2 linked regions of the Homo sapiens genome follow. Each later gene encodes a partner of the first gene's protein in a complex. Each region holds a gene or a part of one and is shown in the gene's direction. Other genes may lie near its edges.

The links.
Region 2: TUBGCP3 (region 1) and TUBG2 share a complex: the UniProt entries of both Homo sapiens proteins name them as parts of the gamma-tubulin ring complex.

The regions. Positions count from the first base shown.
Region 1 is NC_000013.11:112,484,471-112,487,443, reverse strand, and holds the end of TUBGCP3 (gamma-tubulin complex component 3), read left to right. Parts: intron 1-1,292; coding exon 1,293-1,451; 3' UTR 1,452-2,433; downstream 2,434-2,973. UniProt on the Homo sapiens protein: Component of the gamma-tubulin ring complex (gTuRC) which mediates microtubule nucleation.
Region 2 is NC_000017.11:42,662,028-42,664,968, forward strand, and holds part of TUBG2 (tubulin gamma-2 chain), read left to right. Parts: intron 1-945; coding exon 946-1,025; intron 1,026-1,349; coding exon 1,350-1,476; intron 1,477-2,941. UniProt on the Homo sapiens protein: Tubulin is the major constituent of microtubules, protein filaments consisting of alpha- and beta-tubulin heterodimers. Gamma-tubulin is a key component of the gamma-tubulin ring complex (gTuRC) which mediates microtubule nucleation.

The DNA.
Region 1 (2,973 bases):
ATTTTTAAAAAGTAATCACTGTAATCCCAATTTTACTCAAATTACAGTCTTAAATCTGAATGGTAATGATTTACAAAGAAGATTCTTTTCTGTAACAGCAGAAATCCGTCTCTGCTCTCTGTGGCGGTGCCAGCGACGGCAGGCTGTTATCGCCATTGACTGTGAAAGAACATCCAGTCTCAACCTGTGGAAGAAATATTCTTAGATTTCCTTTTAGTAGTTCCACAGACCGTTGTATTTCAGTTTCATCACATCATCACATAATAGGAAGTCACTGTCTATATTTTGGCAATATAACTTCTTAGGCGTGTTCTTCTTCCCTCACCTAAAAAGGCAGTGATACACACACACACACACACAGACACACACACACACACACACACACACACATACACAGTGTTTGCCTGCTCAGAGGTGAAGTTACTTTATCAACACAGCAGAGCCTGTGCCCAGGCCTGCCTGTGAGCTTCAGCATTCGTGTTTCTGACCAGAAGCTGGGAAGGGGCAGTGACAGCTGGTGAAGACTTGGGCGGGGCTTGGTGAGGACGCAGTGCCTCAGTGAGTTTTCTCTGCAGATGAGGCCTTTCCAGGCCAGCAGTTCTGTGAACAGATCAGCACCCCGTGGCATGCAGCAGGCTCCAGCACTGGGCGGGGATGGGCCTGTACTCAGTATGCAAGTCTTTCAGCCTGAAATAGAAGCAGCCAGTCCTTTCGTCTTATCAGAGTTAGGGGAAACTTCTGTCACATCTTTAAAAACGCCCTCAGTAACAGGATGATGGCGATGCCAGTGCCCATGAAGAGGGCGGCTGCAGCCTCACGTCCAGCAGCTAGACCCAAAGACCCGACTGATGCTCTCAATTTGTTCTCCAGCAAGGGCTCTAGGATGAAATCCTCTTTCATGAGTCATATGAAAGATGAAATATGTGGCACTGAGTTTTGTATTCAAAATAGAATGTTCTAACATCTGTTACTTTGCTGTTTTGCTTATTCTTGTGGAACTTAAGAACAAAGTGAAAAAACCTGTTGGTTAGTTGTTTTCAAATCAAATGTATTCTTCACTAATTTGTCCTTGTAAAAGGGCGCCCATTCCTAATGCAGGTGCACTGGCCGTGTGCACTCCAGGGTCCCAGCAGCTCTTGCTCCCTGGACACCTGCCCTGGTGGGCATTTACTAAGGGCCTGTTGATCTGGAAGGAAAAACAGACCCAACCCAAAGGAGATTAAGGTCCGGGGAATACGTTTGTGGGTTGTTCTTTTCTGAAACAATATTTTACTCCTTTTGCTTCTTTTTAGGGTATCGTGCAGCAGTTTTTGGTGTTACTGACGACCAGCTCTGACGAGAGTCTTCGGTTTCTTAGCTTCAGGCTGGACTTCAACGAGCATTACAAAGCCAGGGAGCCCAGGCTCCGTGTGTCTCTGGGTACCAGGGGGCGGCGCAGCTCCCACACGTGAAGCTCGCGGTCCTCCCAGGGAGCTGCGGGTGATGTTCGTTGCACTGCTAGACACGAAATTCCCATTGACGTCCTGCAGGAACTGCATGCTGCAGGTGTCCTGCCCTTCCGCCCACGAGTGCGCCATGTTTCAGCGGAGCGGCGTGTGGGAGAAGCCACGTCGTGTTTCACATGTCGGAGTCGAATGCATTTGTAAATCCCTAAGTCAAGTAGGCTGGCTGCACTGTTCACATTTGTCTCTAAAAGTCTTCATCGCTAAAAGATACCATAATTTGCTGAGGCTTCTTAAGCTTTCTATGTTATAATTTATATTTGTCACTTTAAAAAATCCATTTCTTTTAGAAAAAATTAGGGTGATAGGATATTCATTAGTTAAGATGGTAACGTCATTGCTATTTTTTTAACATCCTCTTTAGAGGTAATTTTTGTTAACATAACCAAAAATTAAATTGAAACAAAATGTCCCAACTAAGAAAATATATAGAGCATTTTATTTTTTTTTAGTGTTGTAAAATATTAACCTCTGTGAGATCCTTTGTATCTTAATGCATTACCTTTACACATATTTATTCTTATTTTCTCTCCTTTCAGAGTTTACATTTTTATATTTAATTTACTATTTCAGATTTTTAAAATAGTATAGAAAAAAGTAGGAGTGATAGAGAACAAAAATACTCTTATACAGTGCAACCCAAATACCGCGAATGCATCAGCTAAAGCAGCGTGTAAATAGGAGTGACGAGAAAGTTAATGGAGTATTTTATTTTCAAAGTTCCTGATAAGCATTGGAAAGAAATCGACATGGATAATGAAGATTTCCTTTTTCCTTGCCTATTTTTTCATTGTAAATATTTATATACTACTGACCAAGATGTTGGGGTGGGGGGGATTGTTTTTTGTAAAAATGTCATTATCAGGTCACATAAATCTGCCTTTATGTTGCATAAGTGAAAATTTAGAAAATTAAAAGCAATTATCTTTCAGATGCATTCGTTATTTCTTGAGTAGTTTATGAAGGGACAGTTTACTTGCTGGATTTGGGGGTTGAGGGTTGGTAGAATTTGATTTAATATAGTACAGCATATGAATTATTTAATCAGTGAAACCAGGAAAGTAGACTTTGTGTGACTTTTGGTATAGAAGCAAAGGCAATGTCACCGCTCAGGTCTCAGGAGCGGTGCTTTAGTTATCTGAATCCACCTCTGACTCCTTTAGGTGTGGATTACCTTTAAAACTAAAGGGGCTGTCAGGAATCCTGGCCATGCAGAAATGAATTCATGGCAAAGGCCAGAAATTCAATGTAATTTTAGTTTTGAAGTTCATAAAATCAGAAATTTGAAACAGGTTTTTCTACTGCAAGGTTTTTTAGAAATTATTGCATATTGTTTATCTCCACGAGAGGTTTACCAAGGTAATTGACCATGCAGCCAGCTTTTATTTTATTTTATTCAGAGAGTTGTTCCAGGGATTAATCCTCAGTAGAAACCACCCTAGCAAAGGCCCACCTCGATTTTAGGGATTAC
Region 2 (2,941 bases), on another chromosome or scaffold:
GGCACAGTGGCTCATGCCTGTAATCCCAGCACTTTGGGAGGCCGAAGCAGGTGGATCATCCGAGCCCAGGAGTTCAAAACCAGCCTGGGCAACATGGTGAAACCCCATCTCTGCAAAATATACAAACATTATCCAGGCATGGTGGTACATGCCTATAGTCCAAGCTACTTGGAGGCTGAGATAGGAAGATGCCTTGAGCCCAGGAATTCAAGGCTGCAGTGAGCTATGATCACACCACTGCACTGCAGTCTGGGGGACTGAGTGAGATCCTGTCTCTAAAACCAAAACAAATTTGAGGACAGGTGCGGTAGCTCATGCTTGTAATCCCAACACTTTGGCAGGCCGAGGCGGGCAGATCACTTGAGGTCAGGAGTTCAAGACCAGCCTGGCCAACATGGTGAAACCCCGTATCTACGAAAAATAAAAAAATTAGCCAGGCGTGGTGGTACATGCCCGTAGTCCCAGCTACTTGAGAGGCTGAGGCAGGAGAATGGCTCGAACCTAGGAGGTAGAGGTTGCAGTGAGCCAAGATCGGGCCATTGCACTACAGCTTGGGTGACAGAGCAAGACTCCGTCTCAAAAAAAAAAAAAATTGAAAATACCGTAAGTAGAAATGCATCAGGTTATAACCCAATAAGCCCATCATGAAGTTGAAAAATTGTAAATTGAACCATTGTAATTCAGATGCTTCTTGATTTAAGATGGGATTATGTCCTGATAAACCCATCATAAAGCCAAAACATCTTAAATTAAACCATCCTAAGTCAGGGACAGTCTGTAGGTAGTCCAGAATTGAAGTGAATTAGTGGATACCCAGCTGGCATCTACTGTAGAATTGACTGCTTACCTGATGTGTGTGGTAAGACCCCACCCATCTGGTATCAGAATTGTGTTGTGAGAGTGTGGCAGGAGAAACTGAGTCTGTTTATTCCTGTATACACACAGGGCTTCGTGCTGTGTCACTCCATCGCTGGGGGTACGGGTTCTGGCCTGGGCTCCTACCTCCTGGAGCGACTGAATGACAGGCAAGCCTGTGTTTGGGGAGAGGGCATTAACCCTGGTTCCCTGAGTAATGTCATTGCTTTTTTCTCTTGAGCTAGAAAGTCTGCCACTACCCCTTTTGAGTCATAGGGACAGACCCACCCAAGGACCATGTTGGAAGCTATTTTGGGGGGTGGGGGTTTACCTGTGGAGGGGAGGGGATCTACAGAGTTTGAAGCTTTCAGGCTTATCCTTTTTGGCTCTGAAGACTCAGTTCTGCCCTCACCCCTTTTGTACAAAATGGCACATATGGGCAGTGATGGAGGGGTCCTTCCGGTTCACTATGCCACCATCCTCTTTTCTCTCAGGTACCCCAAGAAGCTAGTGCAGACTTATTCAGTGTTTCCCTACCAGGACGAGATGAGCGACGTAGTGGTTCAGCCCTACAATTCACTCCTGACACTCAAGAGGCTGACGCAGAACGCAGATTGTGTGGTGAGCAAAGAAAGAGTTGAGGGGCTGGGTGTGGTGGCTCATGCCTGTAGTTCTAGCACTTTGGGAGGCCTAGGCAGATGGATTGCTTGAGCTCAGGAGTTCAATACTAGCCTGGGCAACATGTGAAACCCTATCTCCACAGAAAATACAAAAATTAGAGCTGGGTGCGGTGGTTCACACCTGTAATCCCAGCACTTTGGGAGGCTGAGACGGGCGGATCACCTATGGTTGGGAGTTCGAGACCAGCCTGACCAACATGAAGAAACCCCATCTCTACTAAAAAAACAAAATTAGCCAGGCGTGGTGGCGCATGCCTGTAGTCCCAGCTACTCGGGAGGCTGAGGCAGGAGAGTTGCTTGAACCTGGGAGGTGGAGGTTGCAAGGAGCTGAGATTGCAGCATTGCACTCCAGCCTGGGTGACAGAGCGAGACTCTGTCTCAAAAAAAAAAAAAAATTAGCCAGTCCTGGTAGCATGTGCCTGTAGTCCCAGCTACTTGGAGGCTGAGGCAGGAGAATCACTTGAACCCGGGAGGCAAAGGTTGCGGTGAGTCAAGATCACACCATTGCACTCCAGCCTGGGTGACAGAGCGAGACTCTGCCTCAAAAAATAACATAAAAAAAAATTAGCCGGGCATGGTGGCATGTGCCTGTAGTACTAGCTACATGGGAGGCTGAGGTGGGGGGATTGCTTGAGCTCAGGAAGTCGAGGCTGCAGTGAGCCATGATCACACCACTGCACTCCAGCTTGGGCAACGGAACAAGACCTTGTGTTTAAAAAAAAAAAAAAAAGGGTAGAGGACTTTGGTCTGTCTCCTCAGGCCAGTGAGTCTCATTCACCCCACCTTTCCTCAGCCCCTATACACACAGACAGAAGACCAACAAAGCCATACCTGTGGGCCAAATTAGGAAATAAGGTCCTGACTTCTAAGTTTCTTAGAATCCTTTTAGGCAGCAAAACTCTCAACAAAGTGAATATACCTTCCCCACACCACCACGTATCCCACCTTTGCCTACTTAATGCCCACTCATGCTTGTATTCTTAGCTCAAGGATAACTTTCTTAGCAAAACCCTTCCTGACTACTCAGTCAAGATCAGATTCCTATATGTGTATTTTAGGGAGTTAACTATAATTTTCTGTTTTATATTTAGTGTGCCTCCCTCCACGAGACTATAGGCCTAATGAAGGGAAAGACGGTGCCTGTTCCTCTCTGTGGTCTTCCCAGAGCCAGGCACAGTGTATGGCACATGTGGGTACTCACGTGTTTGTTTACTGCCCTGCGTAGTCCGAGAGTATCTCATGGTGCCCCAGAAACAGTACTTTTCTTTCTTTTTATTTTTTATTTATATTTATATATATATATATATATTATATATATTTATACTTTTTTATTTATATTTTTTACAGAGATGGCATCTTGCTGTGTTGCTCAGGCTGGTGTCCAACTCCTGGCCTCGAGTGGTCCT